Regions from separate parts of the Homo sapiens genome. Here region 2 is linked to region 1. The links come from fine-mapping of genetic effects on gene expression. A gene starts in region 1. The other region holds a variant in brackets. All regions are shown on one strand. Distances are between the middles of the regions.

Region 1 (5,380 bases):
AGTCATTATTCAAATATTTTCTCTCCTTTCTCTCTTCCCCTCCTGGTATTCCAGTTACGCATATATTTCACCTTCTGTAATTGTCCCATGGTTCTTGGATATTCTGTTCTTTTTCTTTTTTCATTCTTTTTTTTTCCTCTTTGTATTTCAGTTTGGGAAATTTCTATTAACATATCTTCAAGCTCACCCATTCATTTCTCAGAGTGTCTTAGTCTGAGGGGCTCACTAAAGGTAATCTTCATGTCTGTTACAATGGTTTTCAATTGCTAGGATTTCCTTTTGATTCCTTCTTACAGTTTGCATCTCTCTGCTTACATTACCCATCTGTTCTTGCATGTTGTCTACTTTTTCCAAGATGCTTCTCCTTCTGTGGGCTTCCCTAAGAACTCCTTCTTAAATAGAGTCTGTGCCTTGCAGTTTTCTCTGTTGTAATCTACTGTTATTGACCAGAGCCCCATTAGTGTGGCAGTGAGGTACAGTGGGGAGGGAAGCATTCTATAATCTTATTATTAAATACTATTTTTCTAGTGGGCTTGAGGCCTTGGACTGTGATCTTCAGAAGCACTTCTTAGCCTTTCAAAAATCCTGCCTTACTGAGACAGACAGGCTATAGAGGGACTGGAGCTGGCCAATTGCCTCTCCCCAAGGTCCAACAAGACTCTAGTAAGTAGTTTTTCTTGGAGTGCAGGTGTTTATTATGGAAAATGTGGTGCTTACTTTTCTCCTCCCCTTGCCCAAAAACCTGAGATTTTTCCCCATTCTTCACTGAGAGAATTTGATAGGGTTTCTGGAGGTAAAATTCACGAAAGTGTGGGGGCCCATCTAAGATTGGGCCCCTAGGAGTTTTTAACTCACAAGTTAGCCCACACTAAGCCTCCAGCAATTCATCAAAATTATAAAAAATAAAAGTTTTTACCAGTTTATAACTCCAGTGGCTTCTGCTTCAAGTAAGCTAATCTTGGCTGTAATTTTATGTATTTTTCTTTCTCGGGATTTTGGGGTGTCAGTTACCTTTCTATCTTCAGTTCTCTGATGGATCTAAGAAAAGTTGATTTTCAGTTTGTTGAATGATTTTGTTGTTGTGAAGATGGGAATGAAGGCTTCCGAGCTCTTTATATGCCAGAGCTAAAATGAGAATATTATCATTTTCATCCAACTCAAATAACCACAAACGTTACAAGCTCTAAGATGATATTTGCTGTTTCATAGTTAAAGTATCTTCACAGCTAGACTTGGCTTTATTATGTTGTTTATGATGTCTGACATAAATTGGATCCAGGAGAGTCCAGTCTAGATGTCACTGTGTGGCCTTGGGTGATTGAGTGTGACTGGGAGGGTGAGTTAGTTTCTGGTGAGCCAGTATCTATGATGCTGTATCTTGGTCAGCTGGGGCTGCTATAACAAAATATCATAGACTAAGTGACTTGACTAAGAGACTTTATTTTTCACAATTCTGGAGGCTGGGAAGTTAAAGTGCTGGCACATTCAGTTCTTGGTGAGGGCCCCGTTGGCTTGCAAATGGGTTACATCCTGCTGTGTCCTCACATGGCCTTTGCTTGGTGGTTGTGTAAACATGGAGACCCCTCCTTCCTCTTTTTTAATAAGTGCACTGACCCCATCATAAGGGTATCACCCTTATGACCTAATCTAAAACCAGTTACCTCCCCAAAGTCCCACCTCCTAACGTCATCACACTAGGGGTTAGGGTTTCACCATAGTAATTTTGGGAGGACATATTCAGCCTATAACATGTTGTGTCATGGTGAGACTGGCAATGCTAGATTTCGTGATTTCCTAAAAAATAAAATAAAAATAAAAAACTAAGCACCTACTATGTGCTGTTTTAGTCACTGAGAATATAACCCTGAACAGGACGGAAGCTGTGTGCCTTCTTGGAACCCTCCTTCCAGCAGGGAGAGATAAAATGGGGTGGGGGGAGGTGAGGGGCGTACCGTATATCAGAGAGCAGTAACTAGTAGGCATGAAATAAAACAGGTTCCACACGCGCACCATCAGAAAGTCACAAGTGTGCAAAGCAGACAAATCCCAATCTCCTCACTTTTCTATCGCGTAGGCCCCGCCCGCGCCCCAAGCCCCGCCCTGTCATGGTTTTCCTCTCCAGAGGGTAGCCGCTACGCCTTACCGACTGCGTTTCAGTGCTGTCCCACTGCTCCTGCACACCCCACGCCTGCGACCCTACCCACCACGGACAGGCGCTCCTGCGAGCTGGAAGCCAGTTCTCTGCGTCCTGAGCCTGGCAGCTGCATCTGAACACTCGGAGCCTGGCGATGGCTTCCAGAAACCCCTGCGCCGTGGGTCGCTTCAGTGAAGGGGCCTGTACTTCGGCGACCCAGACTCCGGGCTGAGAGGCCTCCTAATCCAACCAGGAGGACCAGGAGAGGCCCAAAAGGGGACACAGGGCAGTGACCGCCAGGCTTGGAGAGGAGCCGCTCCTGGCAAAGCCAGCGCCCTATTTCTGAACGCCGCCTCCGTTCCGGACTACACTTCCCAGGGGCTATTGCAGCGGAGGACACGCCCACTTCCGGAAAGGACCCAAAGCCGGGCGAGTGCACGTCCCGCCGGTTGCTGAGGAGAAGGGAGGTCTGGGCGGGGCAGCGGCCGAGGCTGGACTGGGGCGCGGCGGGGGCGGTGTCCTGGTTCCTGTGTGGGCGGCGGGCGTGAGCGTGCGCGTGTGGCCTGGTGGCTGTGAGTGCCCATACGTGGTGAGCGTGCGGTGCTGTGCTGAGGAGGGGCGAGCGCGCGCGGGGATGGCGGCCCGGTGTGTGACTGTCCGGTGCGTGGCCGCGAATCTGCGCCTGCGTGCATGGCCCGGCGGCGTGCGGAAGGCGGTGTGTGTTGGAATGAGTGAAGCACTTTAAGTGGCCAAGAGCAGGAAACCCGGCCGGAGGAGGCTTACCCCGTTCTCCCCTGTATCGACTGCGTAGAGCCCAGTGTGGGCAAAGTCCTAGAGCCCGGGGAAGTTGCCCGGGCGGGGCAGCCTCGGCTGAAGCATTTCCTGTCAGCCCTATCTGGAAGGGGCAGAGCCCAGGACAGGGCTCCATGTCCACAGGACGGCGAGGAGCGAAGACCATGGGGACTGAGTACACAGGTAAGAGTGACAGATGACGGATGTGGCTGCCGGAGTGGACATTGAGGTTTTGGGTGCTGTCTTTCGGGGTTCAGGTGCTGGAGGAGGATGTCCCCCGTTTCTAAGGCTAGTGGACCTGGAAGTCGAAAGATTTGGAGGGTCACCTTGGGTCAGAGTGGAGCTGGGTTTAGTTAGGGAGGGACCTTGACTTGGCCAGAGACACCTAACCAGATAACCTGACTCAGGTCCTTGGTATATCACTAAGGGCCCATGGGAGAGAACACTACCCGTAATATTACCCATTATAGCATTACTTCTGGGTACTCTGCTGCTGTTGAAGGAATAGCTCAGCATTTAGATTTTTACCCGTCAGAGCCTTGTCCCATCTATCACTGTAGGATTTGGGAAGAAGGCGAGATTCACAGCTTCACCCAGAAATGCCGAGGCATTCCAGCCTTTCTATGGCTTAATCACGTTCTAGTCAATAACGGAAGATATCCCCATTCCTTGGGCTTCTCTCCCTCCCCTCTGGCCTCCCACTCCAATAAAGAGAAAGGGGGAGGAAGGGCTATTTTTAGCCATATTGTTCTGTGCTTGTTTAGTTTCCTGCATGCTATAGTAATAGCTAATGTTTAATGAGTGTTTATTATGTGCCAGACACAGTTCTAAGACCTTTTGGGAGTATCAGCACCAAACTTCACAACATTATGAAGTAGGAACTACTTACCTCTTTTTTACAGATGAAGACACAGAAGCATAGAGAGGATAAGTAATCACTAGCAAGTGGAAGAACCGGGATTCAGATCCAGAACAGGCTGACTCCAGAGTCACTGGCTGTCATGTAGTTTCCTCAACTACTGCCTCAGGTAGGTTTCTTAGCCACTTTTGACAATTAAAGAAACTGACTCTGAAAGGGTTAAATAACTAAATAGTTCATATGCCAGAACCTCCACTGAGCAGGTTTGGGGTTTTTTTCTTAAAAAGTTTATGACTCTAAGTTCTTAGGTAAAATGGAGATGGTAATATTATATACCTCACAGTACTGTCATAAGGATTAAATGACCTCATACATGTAAAGCACTTGGTATAGTCCCTGCCATGTAATGTGTTCATTTTTATCATCATTATGATAATCCTTTGAGAAGGCAGTGGAATTTAGATGAAAGAAACTAGAATTAATTCAGATACTTTATCCTCTTCCTTCCTAATTAAGGAAACATGGCTCAGTGGAGTCAAGGGACTGCTTCAACACTGTAGTTTGTCACAAAACAAAATGAGATCCTAGGCCTCATGAGGATTTTTTCATTTGGTTGTCTGCAAGTCACATGGACTCTGTTGTAACGAAAGGAATGCCTCTCTCTGGAAAAGATGGAATTCTCCATGGAATTTGTCTTATAGAATGTTCACAAATCCTGGCCAACTGCACAGAGGACTTATTTTCTGTTATTTTCTGGTATATGAGCAAATAACTTCTGTGATAGAGTCAGCCAGACCTAGGTTGGTGACTAGGTTATTTACAAATTTGTGTGACTTGTGGAAAAGACTTGACTTCCCAGAGCTTTCTTGTGTAAAATGGTGACAATATACCCGATTCTGTTTGAAGATTTTGGAGATTTAAAGACAGTATTAATATATGCAGCACAGACATGGTGGCTCATGCTTGTAATCCCAGCACTGTGGGAAGCCAAGGCAGGAGGATTGCTTGAGGCCAGGAGGTTGACCAGATACCTAACTCCAGGAGGTTGACACCTCCTGGCCTCAAGCAATATAGTGAGCAATTGGGCAATATAGTGAGACCCCCATCTCTATCAAAAGTAAAAAAACTAGCTGGGCATGGTGGCACATGCCTGTAATCTTAGCTACTTAGGAGGCCTAAGCAGGAGGATCCCTTGAGCCCAGAGTTTGAAGATACAGTGAGCTATGATCACGTCACTGTACTCCAACCTGGGCAACAGAGTGAGTCCCTGTCTTAGAAAAAAAAAATGTACACACACACAGGCTAGTATTAATAAATCTGTTGTTAATGAATTGGTGGCTGATGGGGAGAGGGGGTCAAGAGATATTATGCTCATCCTGAAAACCCAGAGCAGAGGGGAACCCCAGCTATATATTTCAAGTCTCCCAAAGAGCATCAGGACTGTGGGGTGGGGGAGTTGGAGTGAGGACTGTGAGTGAGGACAGAAGAAGCTGAAGGGAAGAAAGCATTTTCAGACTTTGATTATTAGTGCTACTTGGTTTCTCACTACTTCTTTTTCTCCCCAGCTCTACAATCCCAGAGTAAAGCTCTTCTCC
Region 2 (5,380 bases), 100 kb before region 1:
AAACATACATCCACACAAAAAATTTGTATATGTTCATAGCAGCATATCAAAATAACAAGAGTGAAAACAACCCAAATGCCCATCTATTAACTGATGAATGGATAAACAAAATGTGGTCTATCCATACCATACATATTCTTTGGCAATGAAAAGAAATGAGGTATTGGCACATGCTACAACATGATGAACCTCAAAAACATTAGAAATCAAAGAAGCCACATATTTATGATTTCATATGTATGAAAGGCCCAGAGCAGGCACAACCAGAGAGATAGAAAGTGGACTAGTAGTTGCTGAACCTGGGGGGATGAGTGGCCAGGGGAGACGAAGAGTGACTGCTTATGGGTACTGGGTTTTTGGGTGGAAATAATGAAAATATAATTGATTGTGGTGATGGATGCATAACTCTGAATACACTATTATAAAAACCATTTAATTGTGTACTTTTTATGGGTGAATTGTATAGTATGTGAATTATATCTCAATAAAGCTCTTTTAAAAAAGAAACTGCAGTGGCTTCCATTTTCCTGACTAGACCCAGAGTGATGCATGTCCCTCAATAGGCTGGTTCTGGATTGTGGGGGACGAAGAGCCTTACCAAGCGAGACCAGGTTCCGGTAATTCTCCAACATGACATCTTCATACAAATCCTTCTGAATGGGGCTCAGCCATTCCCACTCCTCCTGGGAGAAGTAGATGGCTAAGTCCCCAAATGTTATAGGTGCCTGAAATGAAAAATCAAATGTCTATTCACCATGGACTTGTGCTTCCACATGGCTGGAGGAAATGGTGCACACATCTTAAACATGGGAGACACAAGGTACCAAGAATCATTCAGGAAGCATTCAGGGTTCTGAGGCCAAAAGGGGCAGGTGTATTAAATAAGTTAAATAAAATACAATATAAGACATAGCTGTTATTAAAATTATGTTGCATTAAGAACACGTGGCAACCTGGATCTACCAGGCATTTACAAAGTCAAAGCATTCTTCTAAGCACCTGACTGTACTGGCTCACTTAGTGCTCATGTGAATCAGTGATAGAGGCACTGTCAGCGGAATCACAGTATGTTACAGATGAGGAAACTGAGGCCCAGAGAGATGAGAAAACTTACTGCAGGTCTCACAGCTAGTAAATGGAGAAGCTAGTGTTCAGCCCAGACAGCTCCTGATTTAATCTCCTAACCACTTGCTCTCCAAGAAACATGTGAATATGTTACACATGACAAAAGGTTCTTTGAGGGTATAATCAAGGTTACTGATCACTTGACCTTGGCAGATTATCTTGGACTTGACCTGGCCAGTTGGTTATTGGTTCTTGCTGTCTTGAAGATGAAAAATGAGGGTCAGGTGGAAAGTGTAGGAAGGAACTGAATCTGGCCAATAACCAGCAAGTCTGGAAGAGGACCTGAGCCCCAAATGAGAACACAGCCGGCTGACACCTTGATTTCAGCCCTGTGAACTCCAAAGCAGATGACCCAGCTAAACCATGTTGTGCCTGGACGCCAACCACAAAACTGCATGATAATAAACACGTGCTGTTTTGAGCTGCCAAGTTTGCAGCTAATCTGTTACAGCAGCAAGGGGCAACTAATACACCCAACTGAAAGCAAACACATTTGTTATGGGAAACTGCATTTGAGATGCCTGTTGGAAAAACCACTCAATGATTGACAGTCGTGGAGCATGCTGACCACAGGAGGCTACGCATACAACCTCACTGCCTGCACCAGTGCAGTCAATGGAATAGCAGGGCTATGTGGTGCCTTTTAGTCTTGGGACCTTAGTTAAAGAGATTTCCTCCATGTAAATATGGGTTTTACAAGGAGATACAAAACCACACAACAAGACTAACTCCAGAGCACATGTCAAGTCCCCTCTGCTACTGCAGGCCCCACCTGGGCATTCATCTCCATGCTGAGAAATCACAGTGGCTCTCATCTTCCTCCACGGAGGACATTTCTCTTGGGGAGGGCATTTCTCCTGGCACTGGCAAAGCCCCTGGGAATGCTAAACAAACAGGCCAGTGGCCATGTGCACACTGGGAATGGAGAGAGGCTCGCTGAGCAGTTTCCTGGCTGCTGGGCCCTTCTCAGGTTCTCATCCCTCATGGCAACGGGAGAAAACCAAAGACTAGGTGTTGGATGGATCTCCAACAGGCAACAAGTCTCCATGGAAGGAAAGCAAATGGTCCACATCTCACAAGACACGATGGGGTGTTCCGGAAGGAAGAGGAATTGCCACTTACCTTGGATTTGGATTTCCCCCGTGCAGAAGGCATCCTTTCCTCCCCCTTTAGGGTCCACACTGAGAGATGGG[C/CAG]AGAGAGCTGGTAAGGCAGGGCTGTGGGGAGAAGACAGGTCATGAGGCAGTGCCAGAGTCCACAGGCCCCTACCTAACCTGGAGACACACACACACACAGACACACATGCACACATATGCACGTGCACACACACACACAGATGTCAGAACACCTGGCGCATTCCTGTCCCCCCTCACCTGCTCACGGTCAGGGAAGGGCACGGCCAACCCTTTTTGTGCCTAAGATCATAGCAGGTTCTTGGTCATGAGGCAAATAAGGACTGCACAGACCTCTGGCCATCCATCTGACAAGTATTTACTGAGCACCTACTGGGTGTCCAGCTGTCCCAGGTACTGGGGGGAGAGCAGTGAGTTAAAGTGGAAGAGTGCCGGCTCCCAAGCACCTTACATTCCAGTAGGGAAAGAAAGTCCATATAAAGCACAATGATGGACATGGTCATTGCTATGAAGAATAAACAGGCCAGGGCAGGGGTTAGAGTCGTGGAATGGTCAGGGAAGGTGTCTCTGAGGAGGTCACATTGAGCTGAGGTCTAAATATGAGAGCATGAGCCATGTGGGTGCTAGGGGAAGAGCATTCCAGGTAGAGGCACAGCAGGTGTCAGCGTCATGGGTGGGCGCAGGCTAGGTGTGAGGAGAGCAAGGTCTGTGTACTGAGGCAGAGTGAGTGCAGCGGGGAGGGTGGGCTAAGGCAGGCAGGGCCGGATCATGAAAGGGGTGCTGAGCAGCTGGGATTTGATCTCAAGTGTGACATCACTGGGGGAGGAGGGGGAGCTGAGAAGGGGAGTGACACCATCAGACAACATTTAACAAAAATTTGTGGCATGTCTATATGGTGGGTTAACTGTGTGTCAGAAGAGGGAGCAGGAGTGAGGACAGGACTCACTAGGTAGCTTTGCAGAAATCCGGGGAAGATGTTGGTGGCATGACTAGGGTGGGTGGAGTGGAGGAAGGAAGATGTGGTCAGATCGCCTCCTCAAGAGGGCCCCTCTATCCACCCATCTCAAAGAATCTCTGCCCTGTATCAGTCTATACCTATGCTGTCCAATGTGAATGCCACTAGCCACATATGAAAACTGAGCACGGGAAATAAAACTAGTGGAACTGAGGAACTCATTTTCTTCCCTTTTTTTTTCTTTTGAGACAGGGTCTTGCTCTGTTGCCCAGGCGGGAATGCAGTGGTGTGATCTTGGCTCACTGCAACCTCAACCTCCCCGGCTCAAGCGATCCTCCCACCTCAGCCTTCCAAGTAGCTGGGACCACAGGCACCTGCCACCACACTCAGCTAATTTTTGTATTTTTCAGAGACAGAGTTTTGCCATGTTGCCCAGGCTGGTCTCAAACTCCTGGGCTCAAGCAATCAGCCCGCCTAGGCCTTCCAAAGTGCTGGGATTACAAACATGAGCAACTGTGCCCAGCCCGGAACTCATTTTCACTCCAATCTATTCACTATTAAAACAATAATAAAATAAAATTTAAAATTATTGCTAAAATTATTAAAATTTACTGTAAATTTAAAATGAAAAACTGATACTCAATTTGGTTACCGTAAAACTTTAAAGTATGTCTGGAACAACTTGGGTATGTGACTCTGCTTTTCCAAAGGTTTTAGGAAATTAAGTACAGATCAGGTATCTCCACTGAAAATTAAGGGTCTAGATGGACCGTGTGTATAAAATTTGTATCAGATTTCAAAGACTCAGTATGAAAAAATGTAAACTATCAGTATGAAAAAATAACTATTTCATTGATAACTGTTTATATTGGCTACATGTTGAAATGTTAATATTTTGATATAGTCAGTTAAATGTTATTAAAATTAACTTTAATGGGCCAGCCCAATGCTTTGAGGCTGATGCAGGAGGATCACCTGAGCCTAAGAGTTTGAGAGCAACCTGAGCAATGTAGTGAGACCCTGTCTCTATAAAACATTAAAAAATTAGCTGAGTGTGGTGGTGTGTGCCTGTAGTCCTAGCTACTTGGGAGGCTGAGATGGGAGGATTGCTTGAGCCTGGGAGGCAGAGGTTGAGGTGGGCCAAGATCATGCCACTGCAGTCCAGCCTGGGTAGCAGAGTGAGACCCTGTCTCAAAAACAAAGCAAAACAAAACAAAATTAACTTTAATGATAAATGTGTTGCTTTTTACCCTTTTCAATGTAGCCTCTGGAAAATGTAAAATTATCAGCCTCACATTATGTTTCTGTGGGGCAGTGCTGCCACATGCTCTCTTATTGTATTGCCCCATTTTCCACATAGCACTTACCGCTTTCTGAAAACAGCTTCTTTATGTGGGTGTTTATGTGGGTAGTACCTCCCCCCTCCCTAAACACACACAATGATCTAGGCTGGAAAGCAGAGACTTTGTTTTGTTCACCGCTCTACTCCCAGGGCTGAGAACCTACCTAGCATAGAGCAGGTGCTCAATAAACACTTGTTGACTAACTCAACCAGATCCTCAGTGTGCTGAAACCCCATCCCAGAGACACAGTTCTGCTGCAGCCATTCCCTGGCCCTCCACATTTGTCTTTGGAGAGGACAGAAATGGGGACATACTTTTCACTTCCCTTACTGTGGAAAGCTTGACATCTTGAGAAAATGATACAATGAATGCCTAATTACTCTTCACCAAATGTTAACATTTTTCCTACCCTTTTTTATAAAAAGGCAGTTGTCTGAAAGTTGTAGAATGACAGTTCATCCCTAAATGTTCCAGCACACGCCTCCAAAGAATGCCATCGTCATACCCTGCTGCCAACAACAGCAGAAATATCCCCAAAAGCTTTTTGTGACTTTGTAATGAAAAAAGTACAGCAGGACACAGCCTGGAAAATGGAAATAATGGATGTTCCCTCTACAGATGTTTGTTTCGTCCCCGTAGGGGTGGAGGTAGAAGAAGATAAATCCAAGGCCATCAGGCTTGAGTTCAGAGTTAGGTAATGGATATGTTTTGATACAAAACATGGATCCTAAGATGGCCTTATCCTATTTAAGAGAAGCTAGGCAGAAGAATGCTTGGATTATTACATGTCTCTCTTTGTAGGATGAAGTTGTAGTAAGAATACGAAT

Evidence for each region. PIP is the estimated chance that this variant, and not a neighbour inherited with it, causes the effect.
Region 2: its variant is fine-mapped to the expression of ZNF470 in cerebellum (GTEx, PIP above 0.99).

The regions. Positions count from the first base shown.
Region 1 is chr19:56,564,930-56,570,309 of GRCh38, forward strand. It overlaps ZNF470 (zinc finger protein 470), which reads left to right and starts at 2,539. Exons shown (of 6, transcript NM_001001668.4): 1 at 2,539-3,109; 2 at 3,829-3,954; 3 at 5,351-5,380. ZNF470-DT (ZNF470 divergent transcript) reads right to left here and starts at 3,092. Exons shown (of 2, transcript XM_047439806.1): 1 at 2,144-3,092. The coding sequence starts at 3,092. The coding sequence ends at 2,154. RefSeq lists enhancers at 2,219-2,268, 2,279-2,488, 2,869-2,978.
Region 2 is chr19:56,460,091-56,465,470 of GRCh38, forward strand. It overlaps ZNF667 (zinc finger protein 667), which reads right to left. Exons shown (of 7, transcript NM_001321356.2): 4 at 2,248-2,339; 5 at 599-725. The coding sequence starts at 2,280. Among named protein-coding and RNA genes, the nearest start is that of ZNF667, 15 kb to the right of the region's middle. The variant C/CAG (reference allele first, on the strand shown) is at 2,319.